Homo sapiens: one gene and its partners. The protein of the gene in region 7 purifies or fractionates together with the protein of the main gene of each other region. This does not show direct contact. Each region holds a gene or a part of one and is shown on either strand. Other genes may lie near its edges. The genes, in order: ADPRS, ZNF777, HEBP2, MKRN2, RALY, STAU2 and LARP4B.

Region 1 (3,330 bases), on a different chromosome or scaffold from region 7:
AGAGGCATCTTGTAAATCTGAATTCTGTCTCCCCTTCTGTTCCCTAGATTTGCTCAGGAGTACAAGAAAGACCCTGACAGGGGCTATGGTGCTGGAGTAGTCACTGTCTTCAAGAAGCTCCTGAACCCCAAATGTCGCGATGTCTTTGAGCCTGCCCGGGCCCAGTTTAACGGGAAAGGCTCCTATGGCAATGGAGGTGCCATGCGGGTGGCTGGCATCTCCCTGGCCTATAGCAGTGTCCAGGATGTGCAGAAGGTATTCAGGGCGGGCTGGCTTCTGGGCTGTCCCCTTCCTCTTCTGCAGCAGGGCTTCTGTGACAGCAGGTCTCCTCCTCCCTAGTTTGCCCGGCTCTCGGCCCAGCTGACACACGCCTCCTCCCTGGGTTACAATGGCGCCATCCTGCAGGCCCTGGCTGTGCACCTGGCCTTGCAGGGCGAGTCTTCCAGCGAGCACTTTCTCAAGCAACTCCTGGGCCACATGGAGGATCTGGAGGGTGATGCCCAGTCCGTCTTGGATGCCAGGGAGTGAGTATGGGGCTGGAGGTGTGTGGTGTGGGTATGTGGGTGATCCAGGGGGCCTCTGGCATTGCCGCAAACTGTAAACCTTCCTCAATTGCAGACCCTAGGGAGGCATGGGCAGAAGCCCCTTTATCTTGTCTATGTTTCAAGGCTCTCAGGGTCCCAGAGAACGAAACGACCTGCTCACCCCAGCCCTCTCCCACCTCTTGTCGGCACCTGTGCCTGGCTGCCAGCCTGACCACATCCCTGCTCGTTCTCACATGCAGCCCTCTCCCCTGCCCGCGCCACCACCCTGCTAGCTCTGACCTCCCTGAAATCTCCCCTAAACCACAGGTTGGGCATGGAGGAGCGTCCATACTCCAGCCGCCTGAAGAAGATTGGAGAGCTTCTAGACCAGGCATCGGTGACCAGGGAGGAAGTGGTGTCTGAGCTAGGTGAGTGGGTCTGCCTGGGATTGTCTCTCCCTCTGTCGTCCTTCAGGGTCGGTCTTGGGCTCAGGGGAGCATGGAGTCATGCCTGCCGTCGCATTGTACCCTGGGCTGCTGTGACACGGAGTCAATGGCAGGGTTGAGCTCAGCGCTTCTTGCTCTGAAGCTACAGCACCCTCAGCCTTGTGGACCAGTGTCCCCAGAAATGGCAGCTGGCCACTAGTCGTAAAAATGTTGATAATGGATTTTATTTGTCTAGCATCTATACTGGGCGTTGTGCAGAATGCTTCACAGACACGATCTCGCTTCATCCTCACAACAGCCCTGTCAGAGAGTTGCTAACGTTACTCCCTGTCTGCTTAAGGAGTTGAATCTGGGAGCAGGAAGCTTAGCGGTCCCCTAGGTAACTCTCCCAGTCACGCAGCCAGTGTGTGGTGGAGCCAGGATTTGAGCCCAGGTGGTCTAACTGTAGAGCCTGAGATCTTAGTCACAGCCTGCTTGAAGCCGAGAGTGCTGACTTGTGTCAAATGGTAGGAGGCCTGGGGAAGCATGCAGCCCCTCTAACCTGGCTTCCCCACAGGGAATGGCATTGCTGCCTTTGAGTCGGTACCCACCGCCATCTACTGCTTCCTACGCTGCATGGAGCCAGACCCTGAGATCCCTTCTGCCTTCAATAGCCTCCAAAGGACTCTCATTTATTCCATCTCACTTGGTGGGGACACAGACACCATTGCCACCATGGCTGGGGCCATTGCTGGTGCCTACTATGGGATGGATCAGGTGCCAGAGAGCTGGCAGCAAAGCTGTGAAGGCTACGAGGAGACAGACATCCTGGCCCAAAGCCTGCACCGTGTCTTCCAGAAGAGTTGATGAGGGCTACAGCTGTTGGGGCTCTGCCAGGTCCCCTGGGACCAACTACAGCTCCAATCAGAAACCCTGCGCTTCCTTGAGTGTGGCTTCCCACTTTTCCTGCATTGTGGAGCTGACTGAGTACACCGGTGAGGCTGGGGTCTCTGCAGGGGAGGTCACTGGAACAGCGAGCAAGGGACTGGTGCCTCGCTGGTGCTGGGTCTCTGGTTTGCTGCAGAGCCGTAGGACACTCCTGGCTCCTCAGTAGGACAGACAGACGCAGGCGGGTTTATTTTGGAGGGGTACTTGTGGCATTTTCCTGTATTGTCTTGGACATGGGATGTGGGGAGGTGGAAATGATGAGCAGTAGCATCATTTCTCCCTGTTGGGTTTTAGCCAGTTTGCCAGCAAGCGCATCCTAGCAGGGTCCCCGAGCAGCAGGTTGTGTGGATGAAGGGACAGGCACTTGCATCCAGCTGATCTAGGTCACACCTGGCTCTTGGCTGCCATGTGGCTTATTAACAGCTTCCAGTGGAAGTCGCAATAAACAGTTTTTGGTAAATCTCACCACTGTTTCTTGTTTCTCCTGCCCTGAATGGATTCTCCCCTGCCAGCCTGATCTCTGAAGACTAGTGCCTTTGTCTGTGCTGCACTGTCATAGAAGCTGGGGCCCCAAGGCCATGAGCTGCTGTGTTGCCAGGCACTCCAGCTGGCTGCGTGTTCAGCCAGGAAGGGCACAGCAGGCATGGTCTGGTGGCTTTTCCTGTTAGAGATCACTCAAAGTGGCCCAGGCTGCTGGGCCGAGTGCTTTGCCAGAGGCAGCGGGTAGGAACAAGCCAGATTTTTCTGTTCTCAGAGCCTGACTTCCCCAAACAGGAGCTAGGCCCAGCTGGGCCAGGAACAGGAACCCTGTAGAAGGATCCAGAGGGCCCTGCTATCATCAGACTACCAACCTTTGGGTGGGGAGGGCACCATCACGGGGCCCCGGGTGGACTGAGTGCCGTGTGCCTCCTCCTGTATCTTGGGACCAATCAAAAGCCTTTCCCTGCAAGGAAGTTTTACACAGCATGTTTTTAGAGATGGGGTCTCACTCTATTGCACAGGCGATCCTCCCACATGGGTTCCCAAGTATCTGAGACTAGCATCCATTCTGAAGAAGGGAAAATTGAAAGGGGGAAGATGCCTCCCCTCAAACTCCAGGGACATTCTCTGAGCATCCAGCCTCAGTGGCTAGCCGAGCATGTGCAGTCTGCAGCTGCCCTGCGGTTTCAGCACTCTCGGGCAGATCTGTTTTAGTGAAGATAGGGTTCTGGCTAGGCTGAGGACTCTTCAAAACACAGATTGCTTCAGGTCTGCCACCCAGACCCCCAGCGCCAGGGACAGATCTTTCGTGGCTGAGCATGGCAGGCTGTGAGCAGGTGCTTTCCGCCCAGGACAGCTCCCCCAGCCTGTCTTCAGCACTGGGCCTGACACTAGCCCAGCCCTTAGGAGCAAAGATTCATGATTTCATTCATAATTTGTATCAGATGTTGAAA
Region 2 (4,289 bases), on a different chromosome or scaffold from region 7:
GGCCCCAAAGAGTGAGGGGCCTGTCTTGTCGGATCCTTTTCCTCCCCTTCAGGATATAATTCTTGCAGCTCTAAAGCATGGTCTGTGGACCAGCAGCAATGGTGCTACCAGGTAACTTGCTCAGACCCCACCTTAGACCTACTAAATAGCTTCTGCATTCAGTAAGATCCCGGGGAGATCCATGTGCACAGTAACATTTGAGACATACCGGGCTAGAGAACAGAGTCTGTTTTCTCCCTACATATGGCTGTGAAAGGGGGCAGCAGCACTGAAGAAGAGAAAGCAAGCCAGTCCACACTCAAGCTCTTTCAGAACCTTCTGGAAAATAATATGGAAACCTAACTTCTCTAGCTTTTGAAAGGAAACATCTTGAAATCAGTTTTCCTGGCACTAACATGGCTTATAAGTGAACTCATAAAAATGTGGAGTGGGACAGATCCTTGTGATGTTTAACCCAAGCTCCTTCCTCTGCTGCAATTGTGAAGCTAATGCACCCTCAGTGACTGATGGTAAAGCCTCTCCACGGCTCTCATCGGCCTTCGCTTTGCCTTCGTAGTCTCTCACACCATGGACAGCTCTGCTGAACACCCTTCCAAACTGACAATCCCCGATCCCAGGGGCATTTCTGTACTAGCCTATACTCTCATCAACAGGAGAAATAATTTGATTTTGGCATGTCCTAGCAACTGGGATCACTGTATTTTTTCCTTTATCAACCACCCCTTTCTTTCATATTACACTACATTCCTAAACCACACTCCAATTCAGATCACTTCCTTGGGAAGCCCCAGTTGGGATGTGCTTACCTTGGGAACTTCTCCATTGCTGCCGGGGGGCAGCCGCAGGATCCAGAAATTTCTGTTTTTCAGCAGGTTCTCCATGTTCTCCAGCCGCCTCTGCAGCAGCCCATACTCCTGCAGCAGGGTCCCCAACACGACCCACTTGCTCTCCAGATGGTTCGCGAACTCCACGGCTGTCTTCTCGCAGTCGGCTATCTTCTTTTCATTTGTCCCCGTCCTGCCTTCCAGGGTCAGTAGCCTCATGGCCTGGGCCTCCAGCTTCCTCTCCACTGCTTGGACGGCAGCCCACACAGCCAAGCGGGTGATCTCTGCCGTGGGGAGCGGCTGTTCCTTCTGGACTGCAGAAGAGATCTGGAAAGGGGTGTCCTTTTGGGAAACCGGGCTCTGGAGCAGCGGGTCCATGTCAGTCTCGGGAACTGTTGGGGAAAGGGTCAGGGGGTCTTTCTCAGGAGCTTCAGGGGAGTGAACGGGGGCTTCCTGGTGGTGGGGGGAGTGGGAGAGAAGGGAGACTTCTTGTTCAGCAGCAGCTGGGGGTGGATACTGGGTCCCTTCCTGGGAAGCCAGGGGGCCCTGGAGAGAAGTCTCTTGCTCAGAAGCGGCAGAACACAGGAGTGAGGGTCCCTTCTGGAGCACATGTGGCATCCGGCCAGAAGTCTCTTGCTTGGGAGCACTGGAAGTTTGGGGCAGGGAGCCTTGACGGGGAATGGTGGGAGACAAAGAAGGAATTTCTTTGGGAGGAAGAACGCGGGATTGGAACAGAGTTTCTCGGGGGAGTCCAGCAGGGGCCTGACGTAAGGTTTCTTCTTGTGGAACACTGGGGAACGACAGAGGTGATGAGCGTTGGTTCTCCATGTCCAGCTGCTGAACCTGTGTTCATGGAAGAAAGGAAAAGAGGATTAAAGGCCACAGTCTCCAGCTAGCAAAATAAAACCCAAAGACAAGTATACACATAAAAAGTGCTTCCGTTTGGTAGCAATAATATGTGCCCCTCATATGTGAATCTCTTCTAGAGACCACAGCACCAATTTAGACATCAATTATACCACTATTATGAACCGCAAATGAAAGATGATTATGCTACCTTTTGTTTCTCACAGAGCCATCTCCTTTTTCACAACATACATTGCACGGGTACCTTACGAACAGCAGTGTGGGAGAGCGGAAGGGTGCTGGACTCCTGTTAGAGCTTTTGGCCCTGTCTACACCTATTGCCACCTGTGTCACTCTGGATCGGTCGTTTGACCTCTCTGTTCTTAGTGTCCTGTGTCCTCATCCATAAAACGAGGATAATAATATCTGACACACACACTACCTGAGTTGTTGAAGCACTGAACATAAAACTTTGAGAAACAAAAGAGCAGAATTTTGTAAAAGCCAAGCACTTACTATCCCACATCTCCCAGCAGGGGTGGGGGGCTCACCAGCAGGGGCCAGAACTGTTAATGTTCTTAACTGGAAGGTGGACTTGGCATCCAGCCACCACCACTTCTACCAGCATTAGGCCTTTGTGGTGCCCTGGGTTCCTTCCTTCGCTTGGTCCAAAAGTGAGGACATGACATTATCTGAAGTTTCCCAGACTCTTACTCTTTGATAACAGTTGCATTGCAGACTCATATCAATGAGTCAGTATGGTATATGTATGTTTGACTTGGAAACATCTTCTATGTGCCCGGCCCCTGCTGTAGAGGCTGAACGGGCTTCTGGGTATTCTGGCCTGGCTTCTGCTATAAGCAGAGCGAGACATCGAGGCAGGTGAAGGCAGGCAATTCAACCACTCCTAGGAGTGGGCAGCAGTCCATTGCAGCAGGTGTGCTCAGGTGGTCTGGGTTCCACCCTGGGGTTTCCGACATGGGGAATGAGGAAGTAGTGAGGCCTGGAAGGATGGGGAAGTAGAGCAGAAGTCAGCTGGACTGGTGACTTGTATCCAGATTTGGGGGGACTAGACCAACATAAAGACTTGGAGTCCTTCTGGGATCTCAATGACCCACGCTCTCCTTGTTCCTCACCCTGCCATACTCACATCGAGAGAATTCCTGAATCACTGGGGAGGCGAAGCCACGATCTTCTGTGAGTAACTAGTTATGTATTTACCTAGATCATCAGTATCTTTATTGGAACCTAACACAATTTCTCCTGTAACAATTTCTGTCCACTCCCTCATCATCTTCCTTCAGTCAATCTGCTCAGTCACTATGCTCTATATCCAAGTGGTCTTTAATTAAAATTTCAATTTTCTTCCGTTGAAAATTGGCATAGCCCCAGTGTTCAGTCTGACATATAGTATGTGTTTGATAAATGCCGGCTGAAGAGTAAATTGTTGAGTTACAAAAAAATTATTAGGATAAACAATGACGTTCCTTTAGTCACCTATCAGAGACTTATCTAAAGCAATTCCATATCTTCTACAGCTTTTTTCTTTTATTGGTTCATTTATAGGTGACTTAACTGTGACAGCATCACACTTTTAAGCCACGGATTGAATATTCAAGATCCTATTCACAAAAGGTTTTTGAGATAGTATCGTCTAATAGCCTCTGCCGCGAACCAGACATGAGCGCTAATCAGCTGAGAATGGCTAACAATTATCCAGCATTTATTATGTGCCATGAGCTGTGTTAAGCATTTTAAAGGATTATCTCATTTAATCCTCACAAAATCTATGAAACAGGTACTACTAGAGTTACTATCCATACTTAGTACAGGAAGACACTGGGGACAGGAGAGACTAAGCAACTTGCCCCAGGTCACCCAGTGGTCTGGTTCCACAGCCTGCAGGCTACCTTGAGGCCTTAACTGTCAACTGAGGCAGCTGGCCAGGCAGGTGTGTGCTCTGAATCCTTTTTACCTCTAAAATCCCGAGGCCTGGATATTATTTATACACAAAGACCTGTGGCAGGTTTGATAGGGTTGGGAGAGGTGGGGAGGAAGGCCTTGCCTTTAGAGATATTATCATTTAAGTTGGGGTCAGGGACCTCTTTGAAAACCTAATGAAAGTTTTGGGTTCTTGTCCTCAAAAAAGACAAAAGGGCACATACACAGAATTTTGCAGACATCTTCAAGGAGCTCACAGACCCCTAAACCTGCAGGCTCATCAACAGCTAAGCCACCTCTGAACTCTTCATTCCCTGTGAAGGAAGCGCTGGGGGCCCTGGAGGCTAGGCGCCTGGCTCTCAGGGAAAGTGACTGCCTAACGCAACACAATAGGCACATTACAGCCCTTGCCTTAGAGGGAGATTAGGGTATCTGCCTAGCACTAGAAAGAAGAAGAGGAAAAAATCCCTGGGGAGCAAGTTAGTCTCTCTGAGTAATGCAGAGGTTTAACTGAAACAATGAAACAAAACAAAACAAAACAAAACAAAACAAAACAAAACAAAACCCTCCAGTATAGTAAACAGAGCCAGCAGACCAAGGCATCTTTACCAGCTAGACAAATCAGAGCTCAAAGGAAAATACTATTTCTTTGCTATTATTAGACTGTCTCTCTCCATT
Region 3 (4,289 bases), on a different chromosome or scaffold from region 7:
CGCATCTTAAAAAGCTCCACAGGGGTAGATCTGATGGCTCTCATACCCTCATACTTTAAGTTCCAGATAATCACAGAAGCCCCAGCCCTAAATTATTTCCACTTTATTTTTACTATCAGTGGGGAGAGAAACAAATTACTGCTTGGTCTGTCAGTTGGAAACAACCTCAATGCGATCTGCTTTCTGCCATCCTACTATTTCTGAAGAATCTTGATTGAACTCTTGCTTTTCCTGTGGGGGTGACTGTATATTCCTTAGGAGAATCACAGTGAAAAGGAGACGTTTCTGTGTCTCCGTCTTTCTCCCCACCCACCACTGGCACCCTGCTCTGTGGTGGCATCTTAGGAGGAGAGGGGAAAGAGTGGCTTTCTTGGTTCTGCCGTAGTAGGGGTTCAGCCTGCATGCGATGCTGATTCCATCATCAAATGAGCACAGCAGCATAATTTGCTTTGGCAGATGTGAGGATGTTGTTGGGGGAATGGAGGGTCATTTGAATGAAACATGGACCTGATTGTTGCGCCACTTTCCTTAATAAGCCACTCGGTAACTGTAATACAGTTTCTCTCAGTTGCCTGCTCTGACCTACCTTCCACAGCGGCCAGCCTTTATTCACAGAACAAGAGGTAGAGCAATCTGTAGTCATTTGTTCAGCAATGGGGGAAAAAAAGTCCTAATAAATGCTTCTCATGTGCTAGGTAAAGACAAGGAGGCCCAAAGATAGAAAACGTGGTTGAGCTATCAGTGAGGGGCATGATCCTACTGCCAGTTTAGATTCTTCAAGAAGTAGACAGTTAGAATACCAAAGGATTTATTATTGGAGTAAGCACCTTTGAAAGGAAAAGAGGAAGCAGGACGAGGCAGGGAGAGCAGGCGAGCTGCCATCCCAGGGGAACTCTGGGAAAAAGGTCACTCATTGGAGGAGTCCTGTGTTGGACTGAAACAGTTAGGTCCTTGTACCATGGCCTTGCTTGGTCTTTGGCAAGAGGGCCCCCTCAGAAAAGCATGCTCTCAATTTCCATAATTTAGTGAAATCATTGGCCACCAACCCCTCCTGTCTTGAGAATAGCGTGACCTCAGCTTGAAAGCTAAGGTGGATCCTGGTGAAGTAGCAGCTGGTGGCTGCCAGCTACCCACACTCCTTGCAGCTGGATGGCATATCTTGTCTTGAAGGGGGATCTAAGTGGCACCGCTCTATGCCTGCCATGGTCCACCCCTTGCCTATGTGGATCCATTTTCCCAAAAACACGCAGAGAGTGACTGTTTCAGGGCGCCAATGGACCTCTCTTCCTGAGGATAAATGTTGAAAGAGGAGTTTGGTAGGACCAACTATAGCACCTTCCTGCAAATGGTTTTGGAACCACAACTGGTCCTCATTACTCCCTGCTTCATTCTAAATTCCCCTCACCCACAACTGTCATCTTTGCTGGTCTTGGTGGCTTTTTTGATAGTATAAACCAAGCTCTCATTCCTGAGGGTCCTGAGCTCCTGGGAGCCAAACCCTTCTCAGACCAGGGTTGCTGCACTAGTCCATTCAGTTACAACTGGGCAAGGAGTACAGAGGGTGCCTCCAGTGGGTCCGCTAAGTTCCACACACATTGCTCTCGCCACTATCCTCTGACAGCAGGCTTGCCTCCTCCTGCAGTTCAGGGTCAATTACCCTTGACTAGATGGTGACTTCTTGCCTACTGGTCCCTGAACACAGAGTCCAAAGTGCCCACATAGTAGCAGCAGACTGTAGTTCAATGGGATTCTTGCAATATTGCCTAGAGAAGGTATACAGTCTCTGAGAACTAGGACTTCTGATGCTGTAGAACCTGGAGTTGTGGGCATGGGAAGTACTAAGTCCCTCAGTGGTTCGTTGGGTGCGATGGTAAGTGGGGTCACTCCTGCCTCCACTCCTTGGTTCTGAAATCTATATATTCCTGTTGTAGACACAGCATCATACAGGCTTTCTGATTCAATAAGTATACTGTGTGCAGGAGACGGTGGCACATCTTGGCAGGGTATTGTCTCCCACCTGGCACTAAAGCAGGCCATGCCAACATTCCATCAGTCTAGCAGCTTCTAGGTGGCGCAGTATGTGATAGGAGCAGTGGATCCTATGACCGCTGGCGAACTCTCCCTGATTGGGTGTTAACATGTATAGATCACGTATTCAGCAAATCTACGCTGACAGTTCAGATGTTTTGTAAGTCCTTAGATTGTGTTCAGGACCCTGTAGGCCCGAAAGGAACCACATACCTAGAATAGGAAGTCTGTCCTTGTGTGAATAAACTGCTGGTGCTTCTAGGAAAGAATGAGCCTACCATAGTGAATTTGCTATCAAGCGACCAGTTGGTCTTCACAGCCTCATCAGGGTCTCAGCATTGGTATTTGTTGCAGGCAGGTTGGATAGTCACAGTGAGCAGTGTCTAAGTTGGCCTTGGTAAGTGGGAGCCCATGTTGGTGGGTTCCATCCATAGCCTCCATCTTTGCCACCACTGCCACTTTATGTGTGCATTTTACCAGCACTGAGGTGGGCACTGGCAAAAGCTAATAGAACAGGCTAAGTCATTTCATCTACTTGGTTGTTTAGTGCCTCTTCTCTGGTGGGTGCTATCTAGTGGGCATTAACATGTGATACAGTTTTTCAACTTCTGTGTTCACTCCATATGCCCATCCACATGCCTCTACCCCAGACCTCCTAATCCATGTTTTTTTCCTCCCAAACTCCTGATCAGCTGGCAGGCCATTTTCTGCCACTTCCATAAATATTTTACCTGTCCTCCCTCACAAGGTGAATGATCCAGTGTACCTCAAAAAATTCTGCCCAGTTTTTGCAGGAAGATTGCAATTTTTTTCCCGTTTTTCAATGTCACCTTTGAGTGAAGGTCCATTTTCAGCTTGCAACTACAGAAGATAACTAATCAATAAACCAAGCCCAAGCATTCCTCTTCCTTCAGTGGATCATACAGGTCCTCCAACAACCACAGGGAGGGGGGATGTAGGTGCCACTGTGCAGACATGGCGGTTGGAGTAATTGCTCTTGCAGTTTGCTTATGTCCTCTGGTCTGGCTTGGAACTGCTCCTGTACATATCATTTCCATCTTCCAATGGGCTGCTGCCGATCCTACTAGCTTATGACTTAGTGCTTCCCACAGGACCTAGTTAAGATGAGCAGTTCTGGATACAGCATCACTGGGTCTCAAAGTTCCGTGTCTACCAGGGCCCAGTAGCACAGCAGAGGCTGTTTTTCAAAAAGCATATGATCCTCTCCTGTGGTTAGAACCACCTTCCTTCAGGGCCCCAGGGACCTGCACTGTGATTCTCTCATTGGGCCTTGTCATCTATTCCACACTGCATCTTCTTTCCCCCTACCTCCAATACATAAGATCTGCCACATCACATAATTCAAGCTGCTAATTTCTTCATATCTGTCACTTCTGGTTCTACTTCTAATGATTACCCTTTTTTCCTAATTATGGGCCATAATTTATATTTCTCTGTTTCCAGTAATTTTTTACTGAATGTTGGTAATTATGAGTGTTATGTTGTTTGTTGATGGATTTTGTTATATTCCTATAAATGGTATTGGGTTTTATTCTGATTCACAGTTAAGTTTCTTGAAATTAGTTTGATCCTTCCAAGGCTTGTCTTTAAGCTTTGTTAGGGGAAGTCCAAAGAAGCCTTTGGTCTAGGGACAATTTGACCTCAGTACTAAGGCAACACCTGTTGGAGGACTCCACCTGATGACCCATGCATTATGAGTTATTTCTACTCTGGCTAGTGGAAACACAAACTTTTCCCAGCCCCATAGATGATCTGTAAATTATTTGCTCTACTAATTTCCAGTTACTCATTTCTTGGCTTAAGTAGTTTCTTCTAACACCTTCACTCAACCAAGGACTCCAGGGGACCCACTGCAGATCTACAGCACTCTCTGTCTGTGTGCTGCTGCCTCCTCTCCTCTCACTTACTCACCTTGGCCTCCGGTGACACTGATCTCCATCTCCTCAACACAGCAGGACCACTGGTCTCTGGCTTCCCTCTCCCTGCTTTGCTGCCTAGAAACTGCCTCCAGGCCATTCGCCTGAGCAATCACTGGACTCACCTCATTATTCCCCCTTCTCGCAGAGATCACAGTCCTGTACTATGAACTTTCAGTGTCTGAAAACCATTGTTTCATATATTTTGTCTGGGCTTTTAGTTGTTTAAGAGGGACAGGTAAATTGGGTTCCCAATTCATCATCATGGCCAGAAGCAGATGTTCACCCGAGGTGCTTAAAAAATACTGTTCAAGGCAATATTTA
Region 4 (4,289 bases), on a different chromosome or scaffold from region 7:
CTCAGAAACTCACAATGCTTGGCATCCAATCATAAATTACTAGATATGCCAAAAAGCAGAAAATAATGTGACCTATAACCAGGAGAAAAATAAAGAACAGGAATTACAGAGATGATGGAATCAGCAAAATAAGACCTTAAGAACAGCTATTATACATATGCTCAATATGCTGAAAGATTTAAAGAAAAACATAAACATAATGTGGAGAGAAATGGATGATTTAAATAAGACCAAATACTAGGTGTGGTGGCTCACGCCTATAATCCCAGCGCTTTGGGAGACTGAGGTGGGTGGATGACCAGAGGTCAGGAGTTCGAAACCAGCCTGGTCAACATGGTGAAACACCATCTCTATTAAAAATACAAAAATTAGCCAGGTGTGGTGGCAGGTGCCTGTAATCCCAGCTACTTGGGAGGCTGAGGCAGGAGAATCACCTGAACCCTGGAGGCGGAGGTTGCAGTGAGCCAAGATCGCGCCATTGCACTCCAGCCTGGGCAATAAGAGCGAAACTCCACCTCAAAACAAAACAAAACAAAAAACAAATGAAACTTCTAGAAGTGAAAAATACAATGTCTGAAATGAGAATTACATTAGATGAGTTTAGTAGATGGGATACTACAAAGGAAAATATCAGAATACTTGAAGACACAGAATAGAAACCATCTGAGAGAGAGAGAGAGAGAAACAAACTTGCTTCTGACTACCAAGGAGCATGGATCTTGGCTTCTCACTGTAAAAAAACAAAACAAAACAAAACAAACCCAACTGAAAAATGAAACAAAATATGTGAAACAACTGCTTTCAGACAATAGAAAAAAGGACTGGTCCTTAAGAGAAGGGAAACACAGGAAGTAAGCCCCACATTTAGTCTGACTTCCTACCTGGAGGCATATTCTAGGTCTTGGTACTGGGAGTAGAACCTCAGGCAAATCACAGAGATTGAGTTTAGGGAGGCTGCAGGGATTCTTTAAAGATCCATAAATAGTCTGGGCTCAGAGGCTCATGCCCGTAATCCCACCACTTCAGGAGGCCAAGGTGTGAGGACTGCTTGAACCCAGGAGTTTGAGGTCAGCCTGGGCAACATGGCAAAACCCAATCTGTATAAAAAATACAAAAATCAGCCGTGCATGATGGCTACTTGGGGGCCTGAGGTGGGAGGACTGCTTGAGCCCAGAAGGAGAGAGCCTGCAGTGAGCTCTGTTTGCACCACTGTACTCCAGCCTGGGTGACAAAGCAAGACCCTGTCTCAAAACAAACAAAAAAACAAACAAAAAACCCTGTAAATAGAACCACACATAGGCCGCATGCAGTGGCTCATGCCTGTAATCCCAGCACTTTGGGAGGCCAAGGTGAGTGGATTGCTTGAGCTCAGGAGTTTGAGATGAGACTGGGCAACATGGTGAAACCTCGTCTCTACCAAAAAATATACAAAAAATTAGCCAGGCACGGTAGCGTGCACCTGTGCTCCCAGCTACTTGGGAAGATGAGGTAGGAGGATCGATTGAGCCCAGGAGGCAGTGGTTGCAATAAGCCAAGATCATGCTGCTGCACTCTAGCCTGGGTGACAGAGTGAGACCCTGTCTCCCAAAAAAAAAAAAAAAAAAAAAAAAAAAGGTAAGTTGGGGAAAGAATCTTTTCAACAAATGATGCTGGACCCAAAATCGACTTGGAAAAAACTTAAATATGTACCTGCTGATATGACCCAAAATGAAGTATAAAACAACCTATGACGTATTCTAGCCAGAAACAATTAATTTGAATCCACAAAACTCCAGATCTAACATCCAGTTCATAGAAAATACAGGAGACTGGGGACAACCTATGAAAGACATCTCGAGAAAACAACCAAATAAATACAAAAGAGGCTGTACGTGGGACCTAGGCCTACTGTCTTTATAAGTGCCATGTAACTAAAGGAGGCTGAGTTTGGAAGACAGTTTGACAGTTTCTTAAAAAATGTAAACATAAATCTACCATATGACCCAACAATTCTACGCCTAGGTATGTACCCAAGAAAATGAAAATCTATGTCCACACAAATACTTGTACATGAATGTCCAAAGCAGCACTATGCATAACAGCCAAAAAGTGGAAACAATCCAAATGTCCATCAACTGATGAACAGACAGAGAAAATGTGATTTATCCATACAATGGGCTCTTATCCAGCCATAAAAAGGAAAGAAGTACTGGCACACACTACAACATGGGTGAACCTTGAAAACATTACGCAGAGTGAAAGAAGCTGGACACAAAAGACCACATGTTGCATGATTCCATTTATATGCAATGTCAGAAAAGGCAAATCTACAGAGACAAAAAGTAGATTAAGTGGTTGCCTAGGGTTGGGAGGAGAGAAGTGAGGGTGACTGTTAATGGGCACAAGGGATCTTTTGGGGGTGATAGAAATGTCCTAAAATTTAACTGTGGTGATGGTTGTACAACTTTGTAAATTCATTAAAAAGTTTTGCACTGTACACTTCAAACAGGTAAATTTTATGGTATATAAGTTATACCTCAGAAAAAGCTGTTAAAAAAGAGAAAAAAGGGAAGGGACAATGCTAGGTTAGCAGACAGAACACAAGGGACATAACCAGATGCAATACTTACCTCTGGACTAGAATCTGGTTTCAACAAACCAGATACAAAAGACATTTTTGAAACCAGATATTTTGAAAGATATTTTGAAATAAATGTGAGTATGGACTAGGTATAAAATGAAAATTTATTAATATGGAAAGTTAAACACAATTAACTGAGAAGAGTAGATTATAAAACAGCTAATGGTGCAGCTTCTATAGAAAAACAGTACGGAAGTTCCTTAAAAAATTAAAAATATATTTACCATATGATCCGGCAATTCCACTTCTGGGTATAGACACAAAATAATTCAGGCCAGGCCCAGTGGCTCACGCCTGTAATCCCAGAACTGTGGGAGGCCGAGGTGGGTGGATCACCTGAGGTCAGGAATTTGAGACCAGCCGGATCAACATGGTGAAACCCCATCTCTACTAAAAATACAAAAATTAGCCGGGCGTGGTGGTGGGCGCCTGTAATCCCAGCTACTTTGGGGGCCGAGGCAGGAGAATCACTTGAACCTGGGAGGGAGAGGTTGCAGTGAGCCAAGATCACGCCACTGCACTCCAGCCTGGGCAACAGAGTGAATCTGTTTCAAAAAAAATAGAAGACTTCAAAGTAGGGACTCAAACAAACATTTGCACACCCGTGTTCATACCAGCATTATTCACAATAGCCAAAAGGTGGAAGCAACTCAAGCGTGCGCTAATGGACGAATGCATAAACAAGATGTGGTCTATCCATACAATCAAGCTTAAAAAGAAAGGTGATTCTGGCCGGGTGTGGTGGCTCACACCCGTAATCCCAGCACTTTGGGAGGCCGAGGCAGGCGGATCATGAGGTCAGGAGTTCAAGACCAGCCTGGCCAACATGGTGAAACCCCGTCTCTACTAAAAATACAAAAAGTAGCCGGGCATGGTGGCAGGTGCCTGTAATCCCAGCTACTCGGGAAGCTGAGGCATGAGAATCGCTTGAACTCAGGAGGCGGAGGCTGCAGTGAGCCGAGATCGTGCCACTGCACTCCAGCCTGGCGACAGAGTGAGACTCCGTCTCAGGAAAAAAAAAAAAAAAAAAAAAAGAACTAGACAACAGGAGGGAATGGTATGCAAGGAATGCCAGGGAGGCCCGAGAGGCCCAGACTGCTGGTGTCTCCAGAGAAAGGGTACTAGTGAACATGCTGCACATCCGCCCCAATCAGAAACCTCTGACTTCTCCACCTGTTTCTCTCCCCAAAAGCAGAGGAAGTGCTGACCAGACCTACCTGACAGTTTATTTTTTTCCCAGGGAAATTATAAAAGGATATTCTAGTATATAAGTCAGTCTCTCATGCGTTTGGCTAGTATGAGCCACCTCTATGTACACCAACAGAATCAAATTTCTGAGCCTACAAAATGAGAACTGGACCTCATGACTTAAGTGACTATACAATGGTGCCATCCTACAGCCTTTGCTAGGTAGTCAGCTAGGCTTTCCCCAGGAAACACCCTCTTGTGGCCTACCATTAGATCAGCAGTCCCCAATCTTTTTGGAGCCAGGGACCAGTTTTATGGAAGACAATTTTTCCACGGAATGGGGGGATGGGGGATGGTTTCAGGATGATTCAAGCACATTACATTTATTGTGCACTTTATTATTATAATATATAATGAAATAAGTATACAACTCACCATAGTGTAGAATCAGTGGAACACTGAGCTTGTTTTTCTGCAACTA
Region 5 (4,822 bases), on a different chromosome or scaffold from region 7:
GAGGTCAGGAGTTAGAGCCCAGCTTGGCCAACATGATGAAACCCCGTATCCACTGAAAATACAAAAATTAGCCGGGCATGGTGGTACACGCCTGTAATCCCAGCTACTTGGGAGGCTGAGGTACAAGAATCGCTTTGAACCCAGGAGGCAGAGGTTGCAGAGAGCCGAGATCGTGCCACTGCACTCCAGCCTAGGCGACAGAGCTAGACTCCGCCTCAAAAAACACACAAACAATGAACAGACAAATAAATGACAGAACAAGAAGACAAACTAGAGAACATCTTGAGACAAGGTGTTCAGGGAAGAGTTCTTTTGAGAAGGTGATATTAAAGCGAGTTTGGGGAAGAACGTCCCAGGCCTTGCGCTCAGGGTCGTCAACTCTTTGATTTCTCTTCCTTTTGAAGCAGGGCAGGGAGGTCATCAAACAACAGAAGGACAATTATAACTGCTGGTATGGCAAAGCCAGGACTCTGAATTCAAACTCTGCTCCATTCTCAGGAATCCCGTCTGTTAAGCAGGTTCTGGGGAAGCGATGTGAGTCATGAAATCACAGGTCGGAGGAGGCATCGAGAATATGGTCAGTTCTCAACTTTCAGGGAAATCCATAGCTGAGGAATGAAGGACAACGGGCTTCTCGTGCTCTCACTAGGAAGACTGGTTCACCGGAGGCTGGAACACTGAAAGTGAGAAATCCCGACAGGAGAAATGTGTAGGAGAGAGGACTAGCACCTGGATCAAGTTATAAAACATCTCCTGCATCTTTTTCGGAGATCACCCTTAGCGCGGCCTCTCCGCCCAGTCCCAGATTAGGCAGCGAAGAGCGACCCTCACCTTGTCTAGGTGGCACGTTCCTTAAAAGCGAAAGGACCAGGAGTTTCTTCCTGCCTCGTCTCTTCCGGATCCCTCCTGCACCGCCCACAGCCTGCAGATTTGAGCGCCATCTCCAGGCCCCGCCCACCTCAAGCACCACCCCTCAGTCCTTCCTTGGGGCACGCCTCCTTCCGGCACCCGCCCAGAGTAGCCACCCCCGGGGCCCCTCCTCCCCTCCCTGCTTCCGGGCCCGCCTCCTTCAGGCCCGCTTCCATCTTCCTCCCACTCTAAGCTTCTCTTCAGCCCCGCCTCCCTCCACCCGTGGCTCCGCCCTCTGGGCGATTCTCCATTTAGCCCCGCCCACAGCATCTCCTTTCAAGCGCTGTCCTGGTTCCCGGCTCTCCATCTCCTGCACGGCCTTCCCCACTGGTCCGGCGACCCTCTTCCCAGGGCCTCATCACCATCTTAGCTCCGCCCCTACTTCGGCTCCAAACCTGTGCAAGCTGCCCTCTTCCCGCCCCAGCCCCGCCTCCCCAAGCCGCGTCTCAGTCCCTCCTCCCTTTCAGGCCCCACCCTGGCCCCGCCTTCCTCCCGTCCCCGCCGAAGCTCTGGACCTTTCCAAAGCCAGGCTGAGAGGGTGGGGAGAGCCCATGCGCCTGGGAAGCCGGGCTGTTTCTGGGCGGGGCTGCAGACTCCTCGTGCTCGTGTCACCGTGTCCTTCCCAGGAGACAGAGAAGGAGGAGAGCCCGGAACCAGGGCCGGAGCGGCGGGCGGAGCCGAGCTGCGGGGAGCCGCTCCGGGTGCCCCCACCCCCGCGCGCCTCAGTGGTGCCGGCCGAGGGCAGGGCTCGCGGTTGCGGGGCTCGCGCCGCTGTCAGTGCGGCGGGGCGCGCGAGCGGCGCCAGCTCGGGGCAGCGGAACCCAGAGAAGCTGAGGGGGCGGTAGCGGCGGCGACGGCGACGACGACGACTCCCGCGCGTGTGCCCAGCCTCTTCCCGCCGCAGCCGCCCTTTTCCTCCCTCCCTTACGTCCCCGAGTGCGGCAGTACCGCCTCCTTCCCAGCCGCGCGGCTTCCTCCAGACCTCTCGGCGCGGGTGAGTGGGGACTGCGGGCGTCTCCTTAGGGGTGCGGGGAGGGTGTGTGCTTTGTGCCTTTCCGTTCACTCACTTCTTCCGGCAGGCCGCTGCCTATTTTTAGAAACTTATTTCTGCCCTTCGGGGAGTCCCGGGAGCCCGAGTAACTCTAGGCCCCCTCCGCCGCTCCTTTCTCCCACTCGGACCCGCCGCCCCGGGTCCCCGGCCCCAGCCCTCCGCGCCCGGTCCTGCTCCCGGCGTTCCCTGTCTGCTCTCTCCGCGGGCCAAGTCTGGGCCAGTAGTTGGCTGGGTGGGCCCGCGCCCGCTCGGAAGTTGGAGTCTTTTGTGCTCGTGCCCCGCCCCGCCCGGCGAGGGGCGGAGGGAGGGGAACGGAGGCTGCTCCGGGGAGGCCGCAGGCGGGCCCGGCCGCGGCTGCTTCCGGCTCTCCTAACCCGGACTGGGTCTACGGGCTCCCGGAGGCGCGCAGAGCTTGTCCTGCCTCGGCTCCCGCCTCTTCTGGGCTCTTTGCACGCCTTGGGCTCGGAGAGAAACAACAACGGGCCCTCGAACTGGGGCCGTATCCGCGTTTCACTCAGCCTCCTTGGCGGCCGAGTCTTAGTTTGCCTCTCGGTGACATGGGGGGAAAGAAGGAAACTCGCTTTGCGGGGTGTTCGTGGATTCAGGGAGGGAACTAATATGTGAAAGAAGTGTTTAACACCGACAGGGAACATTTAATGAGACTTCACCCAGGAACTTCCCAAGCCTTATTTCATTTAATGTTCACAACGGCCTTCTGGTTTATCCTCATTTACAAAAGCAGAAATTAAGGCGCAGAGGGGTCAAGTAATTTTCTCCAAGTCACAGTAGCCACAGAAGTGCAAAGGAGTGGTGCCAGTACCTATTATTTATTAATATTTCCTGGTGTGAGCATGTATCATCTCTTAGTGCAGAGGGTATTTTTACCTAGCCTTGGGTCACACCATTTAATTAGGGGCATAACTCTGGGTTTTCCCTGACTTCTGGGCCGTTGTCCACTATACTGTGGATGAAATCCCATTCTGGGGTTACCATAGTTCTAAAGGGAAAGGTTTGGATGAATTCCTTGCTAGTGTTGCGGCAGTTAGAAGTTGATGGATGCAGACTCCAGGTCTCAGACACAACTCAAATTCCCTGGGGTTTTGGCTCAAGGAAGCTTTGAGACTGTAAACGGTGGGATCCACCCTTTAGTTTGTGTGTGGTGTGTTCCTCCTCCCAGACCTTGCAGGTTCTCTGTGTTTAGATTTATCGATCCTAGTTTGATGGGGGTTAGGGGGAGTAGCTCAAGTCATCTGCCTTCAAACAAATATTACTCCTATTTTCAGATAAGGCCCAGAGTGGTTAAAGTGAACTAAAATTAACTTTGGCAAATGTTCCAGTTTTTCAATGTGATCCGGTTGGAGGGAGTGTCTAAAAATCAGGCAAGGGAGTTTCTGGGCCAGGTCTTGAGGAGTCTCTTGATGTTCACATTAGTTCTTTGGAGTCTGGTACGTCTGTGGTGCCTGGCCAGGATTCTGGATTTACGAGTCCTATGTGGGAGCTGAAAGGGGTCTTACCATCTGGTCCAACTTTTTCATATCTGCCTTTCCCCGCTTCCCTGTTAACTGAACCTTGGAAAGGGGAAGTAAGTTGTCTGAATTCAGACTGCCTTAGTGTCAGAGTGAGAACTAAAATTTCCAGTCTTCTTCCTCCTAATCCAGTAATATTTTTATTTCTCCCATACCTTGCCACTTCTTAAAAGGGCACGAAACCACTTATTCAGGTCTTAAGGTCAGGAATCCTGAGTAATTGGAAATCCCAAGGAAGTTTTATAGTCCCCACCCCTTTCTGTGCCTTATGGTTAGTATTAAGAGGAGGCCAGGTTTAAGCACAGGTGTACTAGTTCTCGTAAGTCACCACTTCGGTTTTATGTGTTTATGGCTTATATACTCTTCCATAACCATTATCTGATTTAATTTCTAATCCATTTCTGTGAGGTAGTTTGCAGAGCTTGGTTTATGTCTCTTTTTTTACTGTGAGGGAATGGAGACACAGCATAGCACTTGCCTTAGATGACAGAATGAGTAAGTAGTGAGGACAAGACACCTCTCTGGAGCAGAGGATTTGATTTGACATCATAAACTGAGCCACTCATTGTGGCTCTCTGAGCCTCAGTTTCCTTATCTGTAAACTCATAGGGTTGTTGTGGGGATTGTTAAGAAAATGGCTATGAAAGTGCTTTATAGTGGTAGTAATAATAGCTAAATTTATTAAGTACTTAACGTGTACCACCAGTCAATGGACTGAGGACTTTATGGACTATATTACTAATTCTTAGAGCAACCTATGAATTAAGTACTATTATTATCCCTGTTTTATAGAAGAAACAGGCTTAGAGAGGTTACATTACCTGCCTCAGGGTCATGTAACTGGTAAGTGGCCATGGCAGTATTCAGACTGCAGACAGTATAACCTTAAAGCTGGCATGCTTTTTTTAAAAAAAAAATTGTGGTAAAATATATATAACATAAAATTTACCATTTAACCGTTTCAAAGTGTACATTTATGTGACATTAAATACATTCGCATGGTTATGCAACCATCATCACTGTCCATTATCTTCCCCAACTGAAATTCTGTACCCATTAAACTAACTCCCCCTTCCCTCCTCCCTCCAGCCCCTGAAAACTATCGTTCTACTTTCTGTGAATTTGACTACTCTAGGAACCTCATGTAAGTGGAATCATGCAATATTTGTCCTTTTGTGCCTGCAAAGCTGGCACACTTAGTGTCTTCTTTAGTCTCAGAGTGCATTGTAAATGCAAAATTATTAGTCCTCACCTGCAGCAGAGATGTGGCATGCAGCTCCAGGGCAGGAACCCAGGCCTCTCTGAGTAAGACCTACTTTTCTCCCCCTTAGGTTGA
Region 6 (4,289 bases), on a different chromosome or scaffold from region 7:
TGGAAAAGGAGATGAAAACAGTGAAATCTGAGGAAGCAATACACTCTCTACACACAAGCAAACTAGTTCATCCAGTCAAGTTAGCGGTTACAGTTCAGTACATGATTTTCAAGGCAACTAAGAAATCAAGACACAGATATTTCCCCTTCCTAGAGTTTACAATTCTTTCAAAAGCTCCAATGTATCCATAAAGGAGTGCTGATTTTTGTGGGGTTTTTTCCCAGAAGGAAACAAAGAATAAATAGGGGAAAAAAAGTTTCCATCCCTAAATTCACATACACAACAAGTTAAGTTAAACTATAAGCTAGTTTTAGACTACCCAGTGAAACAGAATTGTTGGTACTATCTGAGGCAGGTGCTACCCTCCCTAGTCAGTTCAAAACATGATCCAGTAAAACAAATACACATTGTTATGCCTCAAACAACTATAAAGCATTTCATTATTCTTCAAATATCATGTTTAATTAACTCCTAAGGTAATAGACTTCTAGAATGTTGTATCTTAATGGTGTACCTGAATCAATACTAGCAATAGAATGCAAAATTCAAAATTGCTATAAAGGTAAAATCATCATAAAAAGAAACTCAATCCTTATGTAAAAAAAGGGAGAACTGAGTGTGAAATACTAACACCAAATGTCTGAAGGCAGAATTTTTGTTTGTGGAAGACAGAGCGAAGAGATAGATGCACCTAATCAAGACCAAATAGAAGACAGTGAAGAATATGAAAAATGCTTAAAAAAGAAGAAGGAAAATGGAGAAGAGACAGGCAGCAAAAGAATTACTAGATAGATCAAAAATAAGAGAAAATGAGGCATGTGCATATGGCTTTTTTGTCTGTCCTTTGTGTTCCTAAATAACTTAAAACGTAAGTGGCATGTAGGCCATACTAGCAGGCAAGAATGAGCCTTGTGATGTATACAGATGAAGAATCTGAGGCTAATGAATTGTTTTGTTTTTTGTTTTTGCTTTTAATTCATACCTGAAAGCCTTGAATCCTTGCTAAATATTCCAGTTGTTTTGAAGGTTGTACTGGAGAACAAGGGGGAGTAGGAGAACTTCCTTTTAAACCTATGGCTTCAGCTGTAGAAGATGTTCCATTCATAAGGAGTTCCCTGGCAATTGTAGCTGAACTATTCGATGTGGGAGATATACTGAAGAAAGAGCTTGAAGGTTGGTTCATATCTTTGGGTGACAAATAGCCTAGAGTAGTGCCAGAGATTACTTTGTGGCGGCTGGCTTCCATCTCTTGATAAACATCAGGAGACAAATGAAGAATTCCTTTTGGAGCTATAAATAAAATGAAGAACACTGTTATTACACTTAAAATAACCGAAATAGAAACATAGCATTATTAACTCAATGGCTTTACTTGGTGTAGTAACAAAGAAATGAGAAACACTGCCAAACAAGTATCTTTGTCATACTGTAGAGGCAGTTGCAGCTTCTATTGAAAGGTGAATAATGTCTATTTCAATTTTCCTAAAATTAGAGGTTTAAAAACATCCAAAAAAAGTGGTTTCAATGGGACTTATGTGTAGTAGTGAAGCTATAAAGGGACAAGGGAAACTGAATGTGTGGAAGTATAATGGGGCAGAAAATCAGGAATGTGCAGTGTCTTCACCCTGCAATTTAATATTTTATATCTCATAAAAGAGGCATGAAACCCCAACACATACAGCAATTGAGGCACATCAGGTAAAATAAAGGCTGAATCAGTCCAAATTTCTTTGGAGGTACAAACGCATGTATTCAACAGCCTAGTGATCCTCTCACCTCCACAAGGATGTCCCACAGACAACTCTAACTCACGAACACATAAAAAAGCAAATGGGTATCATCTCAAAACTAGCACTGTCTCTAACTTGCTTTGCTCATACTACCATGTGGCTGCTCATGACCCAACCTAGACTCCTGGCAACCATCTCTGATTTACTCATAAGCAAGTAGTTATCGTGTTGCTCAAACATCTCAAGAATATGACCATTGTAGGGATTATCTAGTGCATTAATTCAAGCCAGGCCATGGACAGGTTCTGAAATCAAGAGGAGTGGGGGCTATGTCATTAGTTGATGGAGCTTAAACCATATTAGAGAAGCACTTTCCTTTGACTATCATTTGTCTCAGAGAAGTTTCAAACCACATTTCAAACTGCTTATTCTTATCTTTTGATCAGGTATCAATAACTCTCAAATGATATTATCTTTTAAAATTATTGGTAAGTCACCACTCATAAAGAATGTGCTCTGAGAGACACAACTTAATTTCCTGTTCTTGCCCCTTCCTCTCCTGATGCTAACCTTCTGATTCAAGCTTTCAATGTTTCTCTGCTGCTAGTATTCTCAGTGTCCATTTCCCAAAATGTGTTCTATAACATGGTCCCCAAATAAAATGGTTCCATAAATAAAAACTGAAAATAATGCAAATTACATAATACAAATGCCTTTTGTGAAATTAAAAATACACATTAGCATAGTGAAGAATCAGAAAACTCAAAGAACAAAAATCTATTCGACTTGGTTTAACTCAGGATTCCTGAGTTTACTTTTTGTCCAAGCCTTTAACATAGCATGAATAAAACAGCTAACACTTTGGGAAATGCTGGAGGCTAGCCCAACTCTCCTCTGACTCAGTCATTTCCAATGACCTGTCTTTGAGATTGATGACCTTTTCTTCTGCTTGACATTGTCTGCTATTGAATCCCTCTGGTAACTTTTTCAGTTTATGGTATTTTTTAGCTCCATGCTTTCTGCTTGCTACTTTTTAAAGTTTTCTTTTTGTTGAAATTCTCACTTTTTTTCATGCATTGTTCACCAGACCTCAGTGGGAATGTTTGTAAGGATTACTTTGAATTCTCTGTCAGGTAAATCACATATCTCCATTTCATTAGGGTCAGTTTCTGGAGCTTTATCTCATTCCTTTATTTAGGAAATGTTTTCCTGTTTCTTCATTTTTCCTTGATTCTCTGTGTTTGTGTCTGCACAAACTGGCCTCATACTGGAGAAGATCCTAACCAATCAGCCTGGACAGAGATTCTGGAGGCCTCTCAAACTTTTATGCTAGTCTAATCCACTTTCTTTGTTCTTGGCAGTCCCCAGGCATCAGTCCCTTGCTTGTCTCAGTCCCATCAGAGCTCTGAGACAAGCAAGACTGAAGCCAATTCTTCAGGCAACTCCCAGATAAGTTGGGTCATTGGATACATGGTGCTCCTCTTTGCCTCTCCAGGAAAAAGCTGAAAGCTGAAGCTTTTCAACAGTTAGCTTTGTGCTGGGCTGAGCAGGGGATGGTTACAGTGACCACCACCACCAGCCACCTCTTTCTTCATTGGCCCCGGGGTTGCTAAAATATGCCATGTCCTGTCAGCACTCTGAGACTGGCCAGACAGAAGCCAGTCCTCTGGGTAGCCCCAGAAAAGCTAAGGCATTGGATGCGTGGTATACATCTTTCCCCTTCTAGGCAGAAAGAAGCTGGGAGCTGGGGGTGGAGGGTGGTTGTCCTGATTGTATGGCCCTGCACTGTGAGGAGGGATTATGGCATGAGGGTATCTTAAATTTCCCTGCCAATTAAGATCTGGCTGGTTTCATGCTCACCCGGCATACAGGAGCCTCTTAACTGGTTTCTGGATTTCTCACAAAGAAAAATTGCCTATAAATTATTGTTGAATTGCTGTGTTCCAGGGCTTCCTATTCTACCATCTTGCCAAGGCTAGAACATTCTCTTACTTAAAGGTCTTTCACCAGTTTATCAGTTACACTATAGAACCCAAACTCCTTAGGATAACCTAGGAAGCCCTTAATAATCTGGCTCCTACTTATCGCTCTATCTTCATCTACGAAATATTTCATGAAGATCCCATGCTCCAGTTACACAGATATATCCAATACTCCAGGCTGTTTGATCCCAACACATCTTTATTTCTATTGTTCGGTTACACACATGCACATACTCTCTTAGTTAAGCTCCAACTGCTATTGTGCTAGTTAAGCTTCAGGCATCGCACCAACCAATACTGTCCTGACCTCAAGTCATGCTCAGTCTATCAGGAGAGGAACGAAAATGGATAATACAATGTGATAGGGGTCTCACTAGAGACAGGTGTATAGAGCAGTGGGAATGGGAAAGGAGAAGTGCTAAAAGCTCAGGGAAGGCTTGCTGGAGATGACGATGACAGTAAATTTCAAAGGATGAGGAGAATACAGTCCAGGAGGAAGAGGACTGAGAGCAGATGGCCAGCAGGAGCAAGGGCAGGGACCTGGAGGGTTTGTGTTCTAGGAAACCTCAGGCCATGC
Region 7 (4,289 bases):
ATATGACCAATTTTATTTTTTATCTTGAGCAAAATTACTGGAATATCAGGGCTCTGTCTGTAAAATGACTTGCTGGAAATGATTAGTCCTCATTGCTCTGCCCATGATTTACAGCCTCAGATCCAGGTCTGCATTCATGGCTCTTCAAGTGTGATGTATTTTCTTTTTCTTTGAGACAGAGTCTCTCTCTGTCGCCCAGGCTGGAGTGCAGTGGCCGGATCTTGGCTCACTGCAAGCTCCGCCTCCCGGGTTCACGCCATTCTCCTGCCTCAGCCTCTTGAGTAGCTGGGACTACAGGCGCCCGCCACTACGCCCGGATAATTTTTTTGTATTTTTAGTAGAGACGGGGTTTCACCATGTTAGCCAGGATGGTCTTGATCTCCTGACCTTTTGATCCGCCCCCCCTTGGCCTCCCAAAGTGCTGGGGTTATAGGCATGAGCCACTGCGCCCGGCCATGTGTGATGTATTTTAAAAAGTCCGATTCTTACAGAGTGAAGAGTTTCTCAAGTAGCAAATTGAAGATTCTAACTTCCCTTTTGTATGATTTTATTTTAGTCCTAAGCTATAATATTCTTTTTCTGTTATATCTTCCAGTTAGCTCTAATTAAGGAGAATTACTTGCTTTTTTCCTTTCCTTTCTCTCTTCCTCCAAACAAGGAGGGCTCTATGCGTATCTCTGTCACTTTAGTGACATTGAGGGTGTGGACTGGAAGGCCCTCAGGAACTAAGTGCCCTGTGTCAGGAGCATAAGGAGCGAGATATCAGTGATGCAGAACGTATTGGAAACCATGGGTCCAGAAGCCAGAGAATTAGAATGAATGGTCTTGAGTTTTGTTTGTTTGTTTGTTTTTAAAGGAACTGTTTTAACAATAAGTTTTATCTTATTTTTGTATGTGTCTAGATTTTAAAAATAGTTGGCCGATACTTAAAATTCTATGCTCAATATTTTTAACTACTTAAGATCTTTTAGGGGTTCTGTGACCCTTTCTAATTTCTTCTGAATCTTATGTTAGTATATTTGCATGCCATACTTACCTTGTGACTTGGGGAATAATGATGATCTGAAAATACCCTGATCTGCAGAGCAGGACTTGTGTCGGGGTAAAGGTAAAGGCCCTGTCAGGCTGTGGTTGGATGAAGCCGAGTGAGCAGCAGTGGGTGTGCAGGTGCTCCTAAGATTGAGAATGTTGATGAGTTGTATTAAAGCCATCAGGAATCAAGAACTGTTGACTTCCTGCCAGTGATGGAGGTCGTATCAGACTGACATGCTAAAGGTTACAACACTTGTTGGAGCCCATGCGCTCTTGACCACGTCTTTCCTCTCAGTGCCTGCTTCCGCATGTGTCAGTTCTCCTCGCTGGATTGTTGTAAGGATTGGCTGAAAGGATGCACAAAAGCTCCAGCCTACTTCTAAACAGCACCCATTGGTGATAAAATTGTAAAATACATGTCTCAGCATGGGTCATGACTCTGACAACATCAAGAAATGCCCTCAGTTTCCACAGATTTGTTGGTATTAATGAAATTGAAGTCTGTTTTATGGTTTATTTACTTGTCTGTTTTCAAATGAATCTAGGTAACTCCATTTCCAAATACTGGATTTATAAATGGGTTTACGTCTCCAGCGTTCAAGCCTGCGGCGTCTCCTCTGACTTCTCTCAGACAGTATCCTCCTCGAAGCAGGCAAGTTCCGGGGCGGTCTTAGCAGTTTTGGTCTTTACGCTACTGCCCTTCCGGAGTTGGGATGAGAGAGCTTTGATCACTAGTCCTGCTCCTCGCAGACAGAGCCACCTGAAGCACACAGCTGCATTCTGTAAAGACTAAGCACTACAATCTGGCATGGGTGCCCGCCTCAGATTCTCTGAGAGGAGGCTTTGGGGCAACTTGTACACATCAGGTGTGCCTGATTTTAATTTGGGCCTGGACTGAAAAACAGCTAAGCAGAATTGTGGCACATTGTTAATAGATTTGCATTATCCTATATGTTAGGAGTTAACCATTCCAAATCCTATTTTTATACTTTATTAAACAGAGAGCAGATTTCAGCTTAGCTATTCCATGTCAGTATGCATGTTATGTAATGCCTTGATCATTTTATAACTCAACACATAAAACCATTTTTATTTACAGGAATCCTAGTAAATCTCATCTGCGGCATGCGATTCCTAGTGCAGAGAGGGGACCTGGGTTATTAGAAAGTCCTTCAATATTTAACTTCACTGCAGATCGATTAATTAATGGTGTCCGGAGTCCACAAACAAGGCAAGCAGGTCAAACTAGAACACGGATTCAAAACCCTTCAGCATATGCCAAGAGAGAGGCTGGGCCTGGGCGTGTGGAGCCAGGCAGTCTCGAATCCTCTCCTGGTTTAGGGAGGGGAAGGTGAGTTGTTGAGCAGTTACTGTGTAACATCATAAACTAATATTTTAAAAATTATTTAATTTAGATATGTTTTGTAATTGTCTTTAAATATGTCACAGAAAATCTAACTGAAGGCTATAAACATAAGGGTTTTATATAATTGCTAAGACTTAAATGGCTTCATCTTTTTTGGAATATGAAATGGTTCAGTGAGAACTGTAGTTGTTTTAGATCATTATTTGTAGAAACACTGGAGCTCAATAGCCATAGACTCCATCCCATGTGCCTGCAGTCTCCTCTTGGCAGCACCCCTGGCTCACCAGGCCCCTCTGCAAGGGCGGTGTCCAGGCTCTGCCCCATGGCTGCTGGCCTGGCGCCCTCCAGCTGGGTGTGCACCAGGCACTGCAGGTGGAGCCTGGAGCGGGTAACCAGGCAGATCAGCATTGCAGTCTCATCTCATTGGAGGGTTGAGACTAGCCAGGACGGGTCTTAGCTGTGCTTCCTGCCCACCATTTTTGGTTTTGTTTAACATTTTTTTGGCATCAATCCTGTAGTAGGTTTTTGTTTGTTTGTTTGTTTGTTTGTTTGTTTTTAAGACAGGGTCTCACTCCGTTGCCCAGGCTGGGGTACGTTGGCATGATCATGGCTCACTACAGCCTTGAACTTCTGGGTTCAAGCAATCCTATTGCCTCAGCATGCTGAGAAGCTAGGACTTCAAATGCACACCACCATGCCTGGCTAGTTTTTAAATATTTTGTAGAGACAGGATCTCGCTGTGTTGCCCAGGCTGGTCTTGAACTCCTGGCCTAGAGCCATCCTCCTGCCTCAGCCTTCCATAGTGGTGGGATTACAGGCATGAGCCACCGCACCTGCCCATTGTTGATAAGGCCAGTTGATCTTCTCAGTCCTTGCCTTGGTAAGGACCGTCAGGATTTTCCTCTCATAAGTGACAAACAAGTGACTCAAATACCTGAGCTTTTTCAGGGTGTTCTATATACAATGTGTACAGCACCATCCCTGACGTGCAAGCTCCTCTTCCTGCCTGCCACAGTGCACACCCTCTGTGCAGTGAGAATTCAACATGAAGAGGCATCAGAAGCATCTCATTCCTGCCCATAATGATTCAATGAGCACATAGGAGTTCCTGCAGGGATTGTGCAGTGGCATTGGAAGGCACCATGGTCTGGGAGAGCTGGCACTGGCCTGTGTCTCACAGGAAACATGGCATCAGGTTGGCTCAACAGGCCTTGGAGATGCAAAGCCAAAAGGGGCCCACCGTGTCATGGAGAGTCAGTGACTTCAGGGAGCAGTTGCTAGCCCTGGGTCTCAGTTTGGGGTTCTTAAGACCCAGACGCTTGGAGGGAGGAGGGTTGCAGAGCTGGGGCTCAGACTTGGGACAGAGCCCTACTCATCAAGGCCATGTGGCTCCCTCTGAGGGGCATCAATTGTGGGCACGGTGTGGAAGGAGGCAGACTAGATGGACAAGGCCCCCCGGCCTCAGCCTCCTGTGCTCTTCAGTGTGCCTTGTTCATACGAGCGTCACAAGGAGTTTCCTGGCAAATGAAAGTGGGGCTTGTTGAATTCCAGCTACCTCACAAAATGTATACAGGTGGCTTTGAAGCTGAGAGTCCAAAGCTTGCTGACGAATGTGGTCTACCCAGGATACCCTTCAACAATACTTGAACTTCCAAATGCAACTGTAACAAGTTTATGCTTTTGCCTGACAGATGCAGATCTTGCACCAATGGAGACCCTCTCTCTCCCCACCAAGGGAGGACAACTGTCCTCCCACCTGAGACCTGAGCACTGCGGCAGGGAGTGGTTTAGGAAGCGCACACCAGCATGGGCACGGTGGGCAGGGAGTGGTTTAGGAAGCACGCACCAGTGGTTTAGGGAGTGGTTTAGGAAGTGGTGGGCAGGGAAAGCG

What was found.
Region 1: the proteins of LARP4B (region 7) and ADPRS purify together in Homo sapiens (co-immunoprecipitation; one large-scale study listed by IntAct). This does not show direct contact.
Region 2: the proteins of LARP4B (region 7) and ZNF777 purify together in Homo sapiens (affinity purification with mass spectrometry; one large-scale study listed by BioGRID and IntAct). This does not show direct contact.
Region 3: the proteins of LARP4B (region 7) and HEBP2 purify together in Homo sapiens (co-immunoprecipitation; one large-scale study listed by IntAct). This does not show direct contact.
Region 4: the proteins of LARP4B (region 7) and MKRN2 purify together in Homo sapiens (affinity purification with mass spectrometry; one large-scale study listed by BioGRID and IntAct). This does not show direct contact.
Region 5: the proteins of LARP4B (region 7) and RALY purify together in Homo sapiens (affinity purification with mass spectrometry; one large-scale study listed by BioGRID and IntAct). This does not show direct contact.
Region 6: the proteins of LARP4B (region 7) and STAU2 purify together in Homo sapiens (affinity purification with mass spectrometry; one large-scale study listed by BioGRID and IntAct). This does not show direct contact.

What each region holds. Positions count from the first base shown.
Region 1 is NC_000001.11:36,091,571-36,094,900, forward strand, and holds the end of ADPRS (ADP-ribosylhydrolase ARH3), read left to right. Parts: intron 1-47; coding exon 48-255; intron 256-339; coding exon 340-524; intron 525-851; coding exon 852-952; intron 953-1,526; coding exon 1,527-1,816; 3' UTR 1,817-2,362; downstream 2,363-3,330. UniProt on the Homo sapiens protein: ADP-ribosylhydrolase that preferentially hydrolyzes the scissile alpha-O-linkage attached to the anomeric C1'' position of ADP-ribose and acts on different substrates, such as proteins ADP-ribosylated on serine and threonine, free poly(ADP-ribose) and O-acetyl-ADP-D-ribose.
Region 2 is NC_000007.14:149,454,371-149,458,659, forward strand, and holds part of ZNF777 (zinc finger protein 777), read right to left. Parts: intron 1,668-4,289; coding exon of another isoform or gene 1,653-1,667; coding exon 807-1,652; intron 1-806. UniProt on the Homo sapiens protein: May be involved in transcriptional repression. Inhibits cell proliferation through CDKN1A/p21 induction by down-regulation of NIBAN1/FAM129A at low cell density.
Region 3 is NC_000006.12:138,417,342-138,421,630, reverse strand, and holds part of HEBP2 (heme-binding protein 2), read right to left. Parts: 3' UTR 1-4,289. UniProt on the Homo sapiens protein: Can promote mitochondrial permeability transition and facilitate necrotic cell death under different types of stress conditions.
Region 4 is NC_000003.12:12,562,849-12,567,137, reverse strand, and holds part of MKRN2 (E3 ubiquitin-protein ligase makorin-2), read right to left. Parts: intron 1-4,289. UniProt on the Homo sapiens protein: E3 ubiquitin ligase catalyzing the covalent attachment of ubiquitin moieties onto substrate proteins.
Region 5 is NC_000020.11:33,992,229-33,997,050, forward strand, and holds the start of RALY (RNA-binding protein Raly), read left to right. Parts: upstream 1-1,682; 5' UTR 1,683-1,903; intron 1,904-1,976; exon of another isoform or gene 1,977-2,139; intron 2,140-4,822. UniProt on the Homo sapiens protein: RNA-binding protein that acts as a transcriptional cofactor for cholesterol biosynthetic genes in the liver. Binds the lipid-responsive non-coding RNA LeXis and is required for LeXis-mediated effect on cholesterogenesis.
Region 6 is NC_000008.11:73,551,030-73,555,318, forward strand, and holds part of STAU2 (double-stranded RNA-binding protein Staufen homolog 2), read right to left. Parts: intron 1,291-4,289; coding exon 983-1,290; coding exon of another isoform or gene 977-982; exon of another isoform or gene 1-976. UniProt on the Homo sapiens protein: RNA-binding protein required for the microtubule-dependent transport of neuronal RNA from the cell body to the dendrite.
Region 7 is NC_000010.11:823,159-827,447, reverse strand, and holds part of LARP4B (la-related protein 4B), read left to right. Parts: intron 1-1,577; coding exon 1,578-1,684; intron 1,685-2,131; coding exon 2,132-2,383; intron 2,384-4,289. UniProt on the Homo sapiens protein: Stimulates mRNA translation.